Linked DNA regions of Homo sapiens: region 1 is linked to region 2. Evidence: fine-mapped expression QTL. Tissue or cell type: whole blood. Region 2 holds a variant in brackets; the other region holds the start of a gene. All regions are shown on one strand. Distances are between the middles of the regions.

Region 1 (8,108 bases), 250 kb before region 2:
TGTACCCAGAGCCTCGATGTGCCCAAGTGATGTACTATCCTCTCTCTGGTCTCCTAATTCAGTTATTTCAGGTAAAAGAAATCAAATAGTCCTACCTAACTCAATATTTGAAGACCTTGAAAAAGGAGGAAAAAATAATTAGTAAAGAATTAAAGTAAAAGATAAAAAGAAAAATAAAAAATGATTTGTGACAATTAAATGATGGTAGCCTTTGCTTTGTTTAGGTTCTTTTTGAATAATCATGCATTCACTCTTTCAACAACTATTTATTTTGTGCTTTATACTTTTTTATAGGCTCTTCTAGGTATTGTAGAGTACTAACGAGCTGGAGGGACACATACAATATAGTAAATGTGCAGGATGAAAAAAGACCAACTAAATTTCCTTAAAGAAGTCAAAGATTCGCAGAAGAGGTGAGACATTTCTGCTGGAATAGAATTATGAGTTTAAATAGTGGGGAAGAGGGATGGTATTCCAGACAGAATTTCTGACACAGTAAAAGTCACTTGAGTCTGTTAGGTTGCTAAAAGTGGGAGCTGGGATGGGGAATTATGGCAGAATATAAAGTTGGAACGACCAGCTAGGGTTACATAGTAAGGAACAATGGATTCCCATGCCAAGGTGTTTGGCCTTTATCCTGCAATCAGAGTTATGAAGAATTTCTAAGCAGGGGAGGGATAAGACCATGGGCTAAGCCTTCTTAGAGACCACTCCATAAAACCACATCCTTTATATACATAGAAGGACAGCTGGGTCCAGCTTGGTCACTGGGGCAGATATAACCACAGGTAAATCATTATAAAGTTTAATAAAAATTAAACCTTGAATAAAAAACTAAGCCTTACAGTTTTAATAATAAGTTTATTACTAGAAGGCATCAAAGTATTTCATGTGCTCTAACTTAAAAACTTAAAGTTGAGTTCACACATAGTCCTAACTAAAAATCAATGGTTCAGAAATTGGCAACTAGTATAATTATAATTATGCAATAAATACATATGTAAAAGTTTTCCTCAGAAAATGAAATAAAACTCAATTGGAATAGACAGAAGAAAAATTATTATTATGGTAATAAATACATACGTGGAATCTGTATCCTAAAATATAAATTAAATATAAGCCAGTGGACAAAATGTGGCTGAGTAAAGCTGGACTTTGCATATCATCAAAAATGGAAAAAGAAACAGTGTTGAATTATATTTCTAAGGAGTGTAGTGGCCAAGAAAAGAATCTACAATAAAGGAACATAAATTAGGAACTAAGGTACTAACAACTCATTTGTTCCCTTCCTCTTTTCTGCTGATAGTTCTCTTTTTCATCAATCCCAATGGGATTTTAGAGATCTCCCAATCCAATAGTCCTCCCCACCGTTTTACTTTAGCAGTTGAGTTCTGCAAATAGTTGTATATAAAATCCCAGCATATAAAACAGGTAAAAGCTGAAAGAGATCCAAGAGAGGGTACTAGAGCACCTAATTTGGCCTCCACTTCAGCCTTCATCCACTTTCCCTCTGAAACAGCTCCCCAAAGAGCCCTTAATTTTCCTCAGTAAAGTGTAAAACACATTGGTCCTTGTCCCAACCCTCCTAATTTACAAATGAGGGAATTATGCCCTAGAGAATTAATTTAAGGGAGTTGCCTGAGAAAAAAGATTATTTCCTAGTACCCCTGCTAAAATTAAAATGTTTTCTCTTCCTCATAAACTTGAACTCAAATGTCTGGGTTAAAAATTGTTTCTTGGCTGGGGACACAGTGGCACACGCCTGCAATCCCAGCCCTTTGGGAGGCCAAGACAGGGGCATCGCTTGAGCCCAGGAGTTCAAGACCAGCCTAGGCAAGATGACAAAATCCCATCTCTATTTTTAAAAATAAAAAAATTTTTAAATTATTTCTAAGTTATTCTGGAAGTCTATGACATCCCTCTACCACAAATTCCCATTCCAAATTCACATAAGGGCTGGGCTCAGTGGCTCACACCTGTAATCCCAACACTTTGGGAGGCTGATGCAGAAGGATTATTGAGCCCACAAGTTCAAGACTAGCCTGGGCAACATAGTGAGCCTTGTCTCTGCACAATTAACAACAACAAAATTTCACATAGGTCTATAACCACATATTATATGAGTGCCTACTTGAAGCCAGATACTCTGCTAAGAGTACGTTATCTGCTCTCATTCAACCATCACCACAAACCCCAAGAGATCAAGGAACTAGGCTCACAGAAGTACTGTAACCTGCCCAAGGTCACAGAGCTAGCAGGGTGGAATCCGGTTCTATCTGACTCCTAAAGCCAAGCTTCAGACCCTTGCACTCTTTCTAATCCCAACCTTTTCCAAATCTTTTCCTATTTTTACACAGGCTTTCAGAAATGCTGAACTGTAAGGATTACTTGTCATTTCACAGAGGATGTACTTTTCCATCAAGACCTGTGGGGGAATGCCTCATGCTGCAGCCAAGCACAAAGGCATCAAGCCCAAAAACCTCTAATTTCACGTTACAGACCATAGAAAGGCTAATCCCCACCCCCACCACAAACTCCTACAACTCCTTTTACAAGCATAGGCTACATACATTCAGTCTTATGGGGAATAGGGACTGTCAACAATTCTTAATAATAGGGCTACAAAATCAGCTCTGAGCTGACCCCTTCTGAGAGGCTGGCTTTTAGGATGGATAACTATCCAATATTTTCTAATAGGTAAAGATATTAAAATTTGTATTTAGGGCTGCCTTGGGGCAAAGGATGACTATCACCGCAGACTAGGTACCAGAGCTGGCATTTAATAATTTGAATTTGAGGGAAGGTCAAGGGAGTTCGGATTGGGGCACCCTCTGGGAGCAGAGGGAGTTGAAGTGACTGTCGTGTCCAATTACAGAAAAGCCTGAATCAAGAGTATGCAGCCAAAACTACTACCAAATTATTGGTAATGGGAGGAGAAAATTTAAACAGAACTGGGATTTGGGACCACCTTCTGGAAGATGTTAGCCAAAAACCGAACAGATCCTAGGCATCAAGGGGTGTGAATTTCGAGGTAGGCTCCGTTGCCCGGGCTCTGAGGGTCAGGGTTCCCGGCGGTTGGGCCTGGGACGGCGAAGCCCCCGCTCCCCCTTACCTTCTGTTGGAAGTAGAGAACCGAATAGTTCTTGGCTACAGCCGGGAGGGATGTGGGGTTGGTTGGCAAGTGTAGGCTGCCGAGGGCCCTTAAGGCCGGCCGGAGGGCTATGGTGGCCCAGGGCGCCAGAAAAGACAGAAGCAGGAGCAGGAGGGCTCGGCGGCCCATGGCTCAGGCTGGAGACTGCAGTGCGGGTGGGAGGGCGAAAAGGAGGCCAGCAGAAGCGCACAGGCTAAGCCCTGCCCAGCCTGCAGCTCCGCCCGCCGCAAAACAGCTCCTCCCAGGGGAAACCCAAAGCCAGCCAGCTCCTCAGAGACGCCGCCCAAGCCAGGTCACCACAGCCACTCCGCCCCCATCCCCGAGGACACCGCCTCCACTCCACTTTCCTCTCGTGCCATCTGCTCCTTAGCACTCACCTTCATTGCGGTCACACCCCAAGTCTGCCCTTATCATGCTAGGGCCTCTTCCTAACTCATCGCTGTAGCCCATGCTTTATCTATAGCGCCCCCGAAGCCCACCTGTCCTTCAGGTCACCCAATATCCCTACCATTATCATCACCACCAAACCCTGCCCTGGCCACCGCAATTCCATTGCGACACCTCCTGCCTTCCGCAAATCCTACGTAACGGCAATAACAGCTACCATGACAATTTATTGAAGGTTCACTACAGGCCAGTGTATCACGAGGCAGGGAGGCACACGCATCATCTCCTCTAACTAAATCGTCACAGCAATCTTGTGCGTCGTATATGATTGTTATTCCCATCTACAGATGTGGAAACTGAGGCTCAGAGAGGTGCGGGAACTTGCACTAGATCACTCAGCAGTGAGCGGAGCACGTCGTCGCAGACCGCTGGGTCCAGGTCCAAAGACTGTGCTCCTTGCACCCACCTCCATCTGGAGCCTAACCACTCCCTATGATACTCCGTTCTTGGGTCACCCCAAAACTGTGTTGCTCGCACAACCCATCCATTACACAGGTCGCCCCGGGTCCACATCGCCCCTAAATCCCGCCAGGTCCCGGTCCCTTCTTTCAAATAACGCCCCCTTTCTTCTCCGGCACCCGAAAACCCACTCCGCGCTCCACCCCCCTCCTGCCTCCTGCCACCGCCCCCTTCCTCCCTCCGCCCGTGGGTAGTGCTAGCCCCTAGGACAGCGCCGGGTCTGGCTTCCAAAGCTCCCTCAACCCTCTTCATCCAGCTTCCATTCCCTCTTTCAGTCACCCCGCCAGACCCCAGGGCGCTGCGGCTCACTCCACACTTTCCCGGGAACCCTACGCCCAGGAGGCTCAGCGAAGCTCCAAAACCAATTTTACGGACTGTACTACTGATCCACCTGTCGGGGAGAAAGACTCTACCCGCAGTTTGACGAAAATGGTCGTTTCCAGATGCTTGTAGGATTTCCTCGCTAAGCTCCACCCTCTGCGGCGCCTTCTTCTGATTGGCTCTGAGTAATCAGAGCCAAAGCGTTACTTCCGGCGGAAAAGGACGCGGGAGATTCGATTGGAAGGCTGCCGGCGTGCTACTGAGTTCGGCCGGTCCGAGTCACTGTGCGTCGCCTGGGCCCGTTCCTGGTCTTCTCCCCCAGGTGAGCTGGGTAAAGGGGTTCTCGGGAAGCCGAAGAGCCGGAGACTCCTAAGGAGGCTCTTAACTTCATTATGAATGAGACCCACCCAGAGCCCGGCGCTTGTTTTTTCACAAGTGGTTCTCTGTAAACGGGCAGCCATGAGGGTAACAGAATATAAACGTCAGTTATTTTATTTTAGACTCAGTGCTTTTGCAATCACCTAACGAACGTTTATTGAACACTTACAGTGCCATCGAGCTAGACTCGGAGTGAGCTTTTAGAATCGGAAATAGAGAGGAAAAGGCGCGACTCTTGCTTCTGTAATGTGCAAATACGTATTCAGTGGGCCACTGTGCAGAGTAGTACGTGCTGAAAGGGGATCTTCCAAAATGCTATGATGGCTTAGAAGGAACATATTTTAACTGAGCCATGTGCTTAAACCAGAGCTTGAAAGTTTTCTTCCTTTTCACATCCAGCCAGTCCCTACCAGCCTCTTGAATATCTCAGATCTGTTCACTTCTCTCCGTTTTTTACTGACATTATTTTGGTTCGACCCTATGACTGCTACATAGCTGTGACAGTAACCCCCCCCTCCCCCGCCGCCCCAGCTGGTTCTCCTGCTTTCAATCTTGCTACCTTCCAGTCCAGTCTCCACATTGCTGGGCTGATAAAGTTCATATTTGACCGAGGCACTCCCCATTGAAAACCTTTCAGTCGCTCCTATTTGCCCTCAGGTTTAAGCCCAAACTCTTTAACATGACTTACAGACTCTTTCCTATCTGACTTTTGCCTGGCTCTTCAGCCCTAGTGGTTTTCCACCGCTCCAGCCATATAGAATGTCTTTTGTGTTCCTGAAGTGCACTATCCTCCTTCTCACCCCAAACCGTCTTCTGACCCTGTCCCTGACCTGGCTAATTCTTAGTCAGTTTGCAAAGCCTTTTAAATCAGAAACCCTTTCCTGACCCCACAGGACTGGATCACAGAGCACCAAGTAATTATTTGTTTATTCTGCAGATAGTTAAATGCTTCTTTCGTCTGTGCCAAGAATTGCTAGGTACTGAGATCCAATGATGAACAAGGTAGATTCCTGTTCTAATGGAACTTACCTTTTATGGATGGAATTAAGGAGAATTTACAAGGAAACTATGTGAATTAGACTGGTCTAAGAAGACCTTTCCAAGGAGTTGATACTGATGCCTAAAAGATGAGCGTGATCCAACCATGCAAAAGAGGGAAAGAAAAACATTCTAAACAGAGTGAACAGGTTGTGCAAACGTCCTGAGGCAGGAAAGAGCTTGACATGTTAATGTTCAAGAATCTAAGGAAAGACCAGTATAGCTGGAATATATTTAGAAAGGACAGTTGTATGAGATGAGTCTGGAAAGATGGGCAGAGACCGGATCATGGTTAGGAGGTTAATCCAGCACCATAAACAGGAGATAATGGTGATTTGGATTAAGATGATGGCAGAATATATGAGGGAAAAGTGAATGATGGTTTCTAAGTATGGAAGTAGATTCAAGTACCTTCTGATGAGTGTGATGTGGGATATGAAGGAAAGGGAGGAATGACAAATGACTCCTAGGTATCTGGTTTGAGTTACTGGTTAGTGAGTAGTACCATTTACTGAGATGTGACCTTCTCCATCCCTGTAATAAATGTCTCATAAATGATATCAATGGAAAAACTGTATCGTACTAAGATTTTCCTGGTTCATGTTTTTAAAGCATTTTTCATCAGTATTTCTCCTTTCACTGAAGATTTTGTCTCTTTGTTTTTTTGCTTACTTAATTTTCACTCTCCTGCCTGCCTCTCTTACTTTTCTAGAATTTTCGTGTCAATGTTACTAAATTATTTTTTAGGGACTTATTATGACTGCCTTTAGAAAAATTAAACAAGTATGTGCCATTGGAGGAGACCATTAGACAGTGTTAAGAAAACAATTCAAAACAGCCACCCTTCCCATAGCTGAGGCCTCTTGGCCTGTAAAATATGAAACAGAAAATTGGAGAATTACAAGGTGACAAAGATTTTCATGCAAGGCAAGAAGGGTTTGGAGAGGAACGAAGAAAGGGAGAAAAATTAGTCATACTTTCTTTTCTTTATGCCATTAGAAGTGGAACTAGTTTTTTAAAGGAGTAATTTCATCCTTTGGGCACAGTCTTGAAGCAAATACACATAGTTTCTTTCAAGTGTGAAGCTTGAGCAAAGAGAGTAATGGACTAGAAAGACTGGTAAGCTACTCATCAGAAGGCATGAGTTCCAGACCTGATTAACTTCTCTGAGTGGATCAGATAATGTTGCAAAAGCACTTTGCAAACTGTAAAGCAGTCAAATGAACTCAAACTGGATTATGAACTTTAAGATAGGATTCACATCTTATACTTTTATGTTCTCTTCAGCCCCATCCCCAGATGCCAGTTTACACTAAATACTTAATTGAACTTTTTCTCTAGGATCTAACATAGAATAAGAATTAGTTTAGATTTTCTAATCTAACCCAGTTTTTCTAGATCTTCTAGTCTAGCCGGAAGAAGAAAAAAAGATGTGTTGGTATGTGCATGTATGGGCACGGTTTTTCATAAATGATTAAGTTGCCTTCTGAGAACTTGATTATGAGGTAGTTAAGCTGAAAGATCACCAAATAATGGATTAGAGTAAAGAATTGCAAAATCATCCAAATGAGACTAAGATGCTGTCAGGCCTTGGGGATTTAACTATAACCATGTTTATCACAAGTGTTACACACCATGAGATAGTCTCAATGACTAGGCTACTGGTTTTCAAGTGTGGGCAATTTGGCCATTACCTGGGAACTTAAAATGCAGATTCTCAGGCCCTTATCCCAGACTTACTGAATCAAACTCTGGAGTTGGAGCCCAGCAATCTGTTTTATCAAGCCTTCTGGGTGATTTTGATATATGATAAAGTTTGAGAAATACTTGTCTAGTATGAAAATGGGATGCAGAGGTTGTAATCAATGAGTTTATATATCTGGTACCACTGACAAAACCATCTCTAGAATGAAAAATGCATCAGGCATTAGCTTGATTCCATTAAATAGTTGATTCACCAAACAGCTCTTCTTCAAGCAACTTTCTGTTTATAATTTTAGTATAATATGAGGTTATACCAAATATACAAATATGGGCTTCTGATATGTCCCTTCCCTGTGATGGTAATTTTTCGTGGTAAATTAGTAGAACATCTTTGGATTACAGTTCAGCTCCCCATATGGCTTGTCTAAAAGGAGAGAAAGCAAGTATTCCAGAATATCCCATGGTAAATTAGATATGTACTATAGTGTGTCCACATGGACCCCACATATTTTAATAAGCATAAGTCTATTGGAGCCTTCATTCCTGGACATTGACCTAGGTAATCCCTGGTATGTGCCCTTTGAAAAATCAAAGGCCAACTGAGGCCTTA
Region 2 (8,108 bases):
ACACATATATTCCAGAGGATACTACACATTTTATAAATAAAATTTATGAAATAATATTTTTGGAAGTTTTCTATTAGCTTAGACTTTTTATTCTCTATTTCTAGAGAGAGACCCCAGATAATAATATATAATAATGCAGATTATTATGTGTACAATTAGTTATGAATTCATGTTTTGGAGGTGAGTATTCATTTGCTGCTTGTTCTTTTGCTTTCTTCATCTATATATGGAAGGAGATGCCAATAGATAAGATAAATATATGGGAGCAAAACTTAAAATTAAGAACTATTGTTCACTAAATCATATTTTTCTGCAAATGAGTGAAAAGATTGCTGGCAAAATATATTTTCTAAGTCTTAAAATGATGAACTGGTTTTTGGAATTTGGTTATCACGCATTTGAATTGTGAGCCAGGGTCCTTTCCTGATAATCACTATCTCTAAACTCCATAATACCAAGTTCAACCTCCACCCTAAGTTCTCAACTAATGCTGCATTTGTCTATTCATACTGTTGGAGGATAACAATGGACAAGCAAGGTGAAATTGAAATCAGGGCCTGGATCAGTCAACAAATATTCATTGAATATCTACTACATGCCAATTTTAGAGCCTGGTTTAGAGCCAACATTAGAATGGCTTGATTCTTGCCGTAGCTATCTTTCTAAGCCACAGACTTTAAAAACAAATGCTTTGAATTATACAGCATCTCGACTGTTCTTTAAAGGAAGTCCATGCACATGAAAGGATGAATGTGACACCTTGAGTTTAAAATGCAAGTTAGGACGGGCACTGTGGCTCATTCCTGTAATCCCAGTGTTTTGGGAGGCTGAGGCAGATGGATCACCTGAGGTCAGGAGTTCTTTGAGACCAACATGGCCAACATGGTGAAACCCATTCCCTATTAAAAATACAAAAATTAGCTGGGAATGATGGTGGGCACCTGTAATCCCTGCTACTCAGGAGGCTGAGGCAGGAGAATTGCTTGAACCCAGAAGGCGGAGGTTGCAGTGAGTCGAAATTGTGCCACTGCACTCCAGCCTGGGTGACAGAGCAAGACTCCATCTCAAAAAAAATAAATAAATAAAATATAAATAAATAAATAAATAAATGCAAGTAATTAATATTAAATAGATATATATGCACATGTGTATTATATTTTTGTAAAAATAAAACATAGATTTACACTTCCCAGTCAGAAAGGTGGTGAAATTAAAGAAACAAAAAAAAAGCTTTACATATTGTGTTTATGTGTACGTTCATTGAAAAAGGCATGGAAAGATAGATATTAAACTGTGAGCAGTGGTTACCTTATGGCCAAGGGCAGAGAGATGGAATTTTCATTTTTTCTTTGTGTACTTGTATTTGAATTCTTTAAAATAAGCATGCATTACTTTTGTGGTTATAAAACATGTAAATAATAATGTTGCAGGGAGCAGTGGCTCACTCCTGTAATCCCAACACTTTGGGAGGCCAAAGTGGGAGGATTGCTTCAGCCCAGGAGTTCAAGACCAGCCTGGAAAACATGCCGAAACCCCATCTTCTATCAGAAATACAAAAAACTAGCCGGGTGTAGTGGTGCAGGCCTGTGGTCCCAGCTACTCAGGAGGCTGAGGTAGGAGGATCCCTTGAGCTCTGGAGGCAGAGGTTGCGGTGACCTGAGGTCGCACCACTGCACTCTCCAGCCTGGGTGACAGAGTGAGACCCTGTCTCCAAAAATAAAAAAAGTTTATATAAGTAAACTACATATTTCTAGCAAGAATAAATAAATGTATATGCATATATAACAGGTAAATATTATTGCTGCATATTATCTACATACACTGGGTTTACATATAAAAGGGGGAAATTCTACCTGCTGACAGTGCTCGATAACTATTTGATTTTAAAGGGATTGGCTTTCAATTTTCATTTCCTTTTTTTTTTTTTTGAGACGCAGTCTGGCTCTGTCGCCCAGGCTGGAGGGCAGTAGCATGATCTCAGCTCAGTGCAACCTCTGGGGCCCAAGTGATCCTCCCACCTCAGCCTCCCACAGTGCTGGGATTACAAGCGTGAGCCACAGCGCCCAGTCTATAAATTTTAAAGGAGTAGCTGGGATTACAGGCATACACCACCACACCCAGCTAATTTTTTGTATTTATGGTAGAAGACGGGGTTTTGCCATGTTGGCCAGGCTGGTCTTGAACTCCTGAGCTCAAGCAATCTGCCCTCCTGGGCCTCCCAAAGTGCTGGGATTACAGGCATGAGCCATGGCACCTGGCCTATGTCCTTTCTACTTTTGTGTTTAGTGTCCACATTTCTGTCTTTCTAATGATATAAAAAATTTACATGAGAAGAGTTATTGATTAGATACAACAGAGGTTTCTAAAATTTAAATTAAATTAAAAATTTAATTAATTTATTTTTTGATAATTATTACCACTCCCAGGCTGAGAGATTTTTTTAAAGGAGGAATTAACTCCTCTTGTAAATACTCTGTGAACCAAGGGAAGGGTATAGCTATTTTCCTCAAAAACAATGGAAATGCTTCATATTCTGCAGAAACACAATAATTAGTGGATTTGATTATTGAAAATAGTCCTGGGATACCACTGGTTCCTGGACAAATGTAGTACTTTTTCACATTACTACATGAGGTTATGATTGAGGTATACATTTCATGAAGGTATGGCCAAGGGGCTATCTTGTTCACCACTGCACCTAGCATAGAGATAGGAAATAACCGGGGCTTAATGTTGGTGGAAAGTAAATTCGTTGCATATTCTGATGAAAGAACTGGTAGTGAAAATCCATGAGAGAAGTTTTGTGCACTTATTTGTATTTAAAATTCCAGTTATCTAGTTTGTGCCCTGTCCTGAGTATTTAAAGAAAAAATGTGCTTGTTACAGTACAGCACATGATTTGAATAAGATTGCTAGTCTCTTGAGTTTTCCATGTCATTTGTGGGGACATAAGTTTGTTGATTTATGTGCTAAGATATATTAATTGTTTACTCTGTATATAGTCTGTGAGGGATACAATAAAAGCCAAATCAGAGCTTTGGAGCCTTTTTTTTTTTTTTTTTAGAAGTTCACTTTGCTGTTAAAAGAAAGTTAAAAACTGTAAAAGGCAGACATTTCTATAATGAAATTCACCTTTAAAATGAAAAGAAAATGAACAGAGGACTATTTCACCCTGGTCATTTCCCTCCAGAAAATAAAACCTTTGGACGTTATTAGTTGAAACTTTCTAGTATATCTAAATAGCACCACTAACAATAGTGTGAAATTATTGAGATTATAAATACTTATTTAACAATACTTCTTAGCTTCAAATGAGGGAAGACCAGTTTTCCTCCCCAGGTTTTACTTTTCATTCATGTGTGATATCATGCTAAGAAAAAAATGGAAAATACATGTCAAAACTTAACCTTTGCAGCACACTTTATGCAGTTCATTATGTTTCAATTAGACAACAATAAAGATGCTAAAAAACTCAAAGAAACAAAAAGAAGAAATGAAAATGTTACTTTATATGGGACAAGTAAAGAGTAGTTTGTTTGTTTGTTTGTTTTTTGAGAGAGAGTTTCACTCTGTCGCCCAGGCTGGAGTGCGGTGTTGCGATCTCGGCTCACTGCAACCTCTGCCTCCCGAGTTCAAGTGATCCTGCCTTAGCCTCCCAAGTAGCTGGAATTACAGGCGGCCGCCACCATGCCCGGCTAAGTTTATTTTTTAAGAGCAATTTCTTCTGGGGAGCAACAAATTATCTCTCAAATGCCTAGTAGCCTACGGAAGGCAATGGAAAAGCAATTTTAGGTAATTGACACTTTTTTTTTTTTGAGACAGACTCTCGCTGTCACCAGCCTGGAGTACAGTGGCGTGATCTCGGCTCACTGCAACCTCCACCTCCCGGGTTCAAGCGGTTCTCCTGCCTCTGCCTCCCGAGTAGCTGGGACTACTATAGGCGCACGCCACCACGCCCAGCTAATTTTTGTATTTTTAGTAGAGACGGGGTTTCACCATGTTGGCCAGGGTGGTCTCGATCTCTTGATCTCGTGATCCGCCCGCCTCGGCCTCCCAAAGTGCTGGGATTACAGGCGTGAGCCACCGCGCCCAGCCCGTAATTGACACATTTTAAAAGCTTATATTTAGGTCAATATCGCTACTCAATGAAAAAATTACGTTTGGTTTGTGTTATGTCGCAGCTCCACGGTGAACTATTTGAAAGCTTTGTGTGTTTTACGAGCATCATTTCCAACCTGGGAAGACAGCCCCACAAGTTTAAAACAAAAGTGCATGCGCGTGTGTGTTTTCCTACGTGCCCCAAATAGTGTATGCTAAGGAGGTTCTGAAATGCAGATTCACAGTGGAGATATTACGGTCCAGCTGGGTGTGGCTGTTGTGAAAAACTCTTCCTAGAGCTCATAGTGGGCTCCTTAAAGAGCTCCTCCAAACCCCCAAGGAAAAAGCCTTTCACACTTAATCTCTAAATAAAAGGCATTTTCCTGGGGATTCAAGTCAGGCAAGCTCGCCTAGGTATTTTTGTGGGTGTGGGAAGCGGCGTGCTGGAAGAAACTCTCCAGCAGTGCTTTCCGAAGTTCCGGGTAAATTGGGCACCTCCCTCCCACTTCCCAGTTCCCAGAGGGGCAGCTGGACCCGCCC[T/G]GGCTCTCCAGAGCACCTGAGACGCTAAGGGAGAGGGGGTGCGGCGGCAGAAAGCCTCCGCTCCCTCCAACCCCCGCTCCCTCCAACCCCCACCGTCGGTAGCAGCTACGGGGCAGGCGGGAGGAAAGATGATTGACAGGCCCGCTCAGTGGCTGGGAAGCTAGAGGGAGGGACGAAGAGGGGACGGCTGAGTCTTCTTCTCAAAGTGGTTGGGTTGGGCCGCGGGAACTGCCTTCCCAGGCCTATTGGCTTCCCTGAATGGGTTGTTATGGTAACAAATGACCGAACAGTCCCTTATGAATCGGCCAATGAGAAGGGCCGTCTTTTCCAGTGCGCCTCCGAGCAGTAGATGTTGCGAAAGTCCGGGTAGAGGCCGGAGAAGAAGGCGGTGCCAGGGCGTCCTGCGGAAGGGCCGGGGGCGGGGCTCGTGACGTTGCCGGGACAGCCAATCACGCCTGGTTTTATCAGTGGCCCCGCCCTTTTACCGCACATTTCCCCTCCCCTAGTTCATTTCGCACGACGCAGCGGTTGGGAACACAGACATTTTCGGAGCTGGAGCCGCCACTGCCGCCGCCATTTTGTGTCTGTGGAGAAAGAAGCTTCTGTGGCGGCTGGAAGTGGACGGAGATCACCCGCGAGACGGCGGCGTTTCATACCCGAGGTTCCCCCTGTGTCGTCCCCCATCCCCCCTCCGCGGTCAGCATGTGGTGAAGCCGGAGCCGCGAGAGAGCCGGGGAGAGGAAGAGGAGTCGGAAGGGAGGCGGGGTATCCAGAGCGGCTTCAGCTTCAGCTGCAGCGGACCTCGGAGGGGGGCCGCGGCGCAATGTCAGAGCAGACGCCGGCCGAGGCCGGTGCTGCGGGGGCCCGGGAGGACGCCTGTCGGGATTATCAGTCATCGCTCGAAGACCTGACCTTCAATAGCAAGCCGCACATCAATATGCTGACCATTCTAGCCGAGGAGAACCTGCCCTTCGCCAAGGAGATCGTCTCTCTCATCGAGGCCCAAACCGCCAAGGTTTTTATACACCCCGCAGCCTCCTATTACTTCTAATACTCCCTGATTTTAGTGTCAGCCTCATCCCAGGTCTCGCTTCCATCCCAAGGGGGACAGTGTTCCTTCTCTCCAACCCCCCCACCCCCCTCCAACTCAGGCTCGGTCTTTGGCCCAGGCTTCGAGCATGGGCCTCTGGGGGGGAGGGAGTGGGGAGGATAAAGGGTGGAGTCCCACTTCCGCTTTCCAACTCCCTTTTTAGGCCACCGCATTGTATATCCCGACACACACACGCTTTGAATAGAGCCCTTTGGGGTGGGGGAGACTTAAAGGCAGTTTGTGGTTTGGGGAAGTAAGAGTTAACATAAGCCATTTTAATTCCCTGGGAAGTGGGAGAGTGGGTCTCCCATTTTCCCCAAGCACCCTTTTTGGTAATTGTGTTCTGTGGGTTGGAAGGAGGTGAAGGGGGACCTGGGAGCGAGCTGTTGGTGGGTGGGAATAGGGATTTGGCCCCGAGTGGAGCAGCCGCCTGTTAGGAGCCCAACATGGCGCCTGAAAAGCACATGATGCGAAAGGGAAGAGAGGAGAATCCATTCCCTGCCAGCCAGGCAGCTGCTCACTCCCGTCAGCCCCATTTTGGGGTGGGGGCGGCTAGATAAAACTTTTATTCTCCTATTGGAGGGTCTAATTTGTCCCAAAATAGGGGCAAGTGGGGTTGAGGGTGGGGTTTGGGTGGGGGGAGGAGATCTTATCCAACCTGTAGGTGGAGAACTGGCCCAGAGGGTAACAAGTACTTGCAGTTTCTCTGAAAAGTTCAGTCCCTCCTCCTCTTCCTTTTCTCTTTTTCTCCCTTCCCTGATAGCGAAGGAGTGTTTTTCTTTACCCCTTGACAGAAGTGGTCCTCTGCCACCTTATATTTCCCTGTAGTCCTCCTCTTCTGTGGATTCATATGGGAGCGATATGTCATTTAAGTAAAGTTACTGTTCAACTTAGTTACAATGAGTTTTAATAGCGTCCCAGTGCTACATTTTATTTTTCAAGCTTGTACTCACGGTTTAGTTTTTTCTAGTTGTTAGTGATTGCAATTATCAGGATGAGCCTCCTTTTAGCAGAGTGAACCCCTTTTTAAAGGCCACTTTAACAACAACCACCAATATATTGTTTAGAGACGGTTTCTGTCTAGTGTAAAACTTGAGTGGTCTGACTCTAATAAATGGTTTTGAAATGTGTGACTGGTATTATAAAATTTGTGAATAAAACATATAAAATATGTATTTGTCTTTTTTATTTACCTTTGTAAGGTGTAGAATCTGTTTCCAAGACTTATTTTTATCTACGTGGTTGTGTGTTTTAAACAAAAGTCTTTAAGTGACTTGGGTTCATTCTTCTTTAGGTTCCATCCACTCTTTTGGGTAAACCTCTTCACAAGATACACGGTTTCAGGTGGTCCTTTCATAATTTAAAGAGGACGAAAAGGAAGGGTTTTTTTTCTTTTTCCTTTTAAGGACCTCAACAAGTTTATCATGCTCAGTCTGACAGCTAAGATACAAGTTTTCGTTCACTTTTTCCTGTGAAAGTGTATGTAAAACAGCTTTTTTTTTTAAGTGTGAGATTTAAAAAGGAAGCATTCGTCATACTCAACATGCTTTTTATTGATACCACAAACATCTTGGACATGAAAACTTAGTTTTTGCCTTGTTGAAGGCTTAACTTGACATTAAATGCCTTAAAGCACTTGTGTTTTTAAGGCAAAAACATTGATTTTTAAAATCTAATTACCTCGTATCTTGGGATTTAATATTCCACAGCGCCTAATATTTAGCAGCTCAGGTTGTCACTCAAAGAACCTTGCTGGTTTTTAATGGATCCGGAAGACCTTCGAGAACCGAAAACTAAATGCTGAATATAGTGACCACATAAAACTTGTGTTTGTATATCGCTACACAGTGATGAAAATAGATGAGCTCTTTGCTGGTAAAAGACAGCTGAAATTTTGGGGGCACACGTTTCCTGGTTATTTTTGTAAAGCCAGGTTGAGGAAAAGATGTAAAAGTCACTTTGGGGGATCTATCTTAATCTGGGTTGGGATCGAGGGTGAGGGGAGGGATTTCCGTTATTTGGTAGCAAACTGGCCTGGTTTTGTGTTTTGGAGGTGAATGTTTGTGTCCTTATTCTTTAGCTTCTCTGCGTTACTAAACTTAAAGGATTCACACTTAATTTGACTCCTCCCAAGAGAGAGCAGTAGCGAAAAATAATACATAAAAGGACTTCACTTGTACAATAAAAAATTAGCCTACTTAACAGACTTTGGTGTTTAAGAGAGCCTGTTTATCTTCATAAGTACAATAATGACTAAAATGGTGTAAAACATGACATGGTAAGGTAAAGACACAGCAGTAAACCATTTGACATGTTCGTACTTAATATAGTTGACCCACATGCAGTGGGTGAACCCTTTTATTAGACAGTACCTTAAAAG

What was found. PIP is the estimated chance that this variant, and not a neighbour inherited with it, causes the effect.
Region 1: it holds the start of DDIAS, and the variant in region 2 is fine-mapped to the expression of DDIAS in whole blood (INTERVAL, PIP above 0.99).

The regions. Positions count from the first base shown.
Region 1 is chr11:82,897,123-82,905,230 of GRCh38, forward strand. It overlaps DDIAS (DNA damage induced apoptosis suppressor), which reads left to right and starts at 4,614. Exons shown (of 6, transcript NM_145018.4): 1 at 4,614-4,700. PRCP (prolylcarboxypeptidase) reads right to left here and starts at 3,308. Exons shown (of 9, transcript NM_005040.4): 1 at 3,113-3,308. The coding sequence starts at 3,280. It overlaps LOC124902602, which reads right to left and starts at 4,933. Exons shown (of 2, transcript XM_047427953.1): 1 at 4,926-4,933; 2 at 3,792-4,559. The coding sequence starts at 4,933. The coding sequence ends at 3,902. RefSeq lists enhancers at 3,034-3,083, 3,204-3,263, 3,414-3,513, 3,794-3,843 and silencers at 4,054-4,103, 4,154-4,243.
Region 2 is chr11:83,151,979-83,160,086 of GRCh38, forward strand. PCF11 (PCF11 cleavage and polyadenylation factor subunit) reads left to right here and starts at 5,153. Exons shown (of 16, transcript NM_001346413.3): 1 at 5,153-5,653. The coding sequence starts at 5,462. RefSeq lists silencers at 4,729-4,808, 6,259-6,318 and enhancers at 5,009-5,058, 5,123-5,912, 5,209-5,458. The variant T/G (reference allele first, on the strand shown) is at 4,639.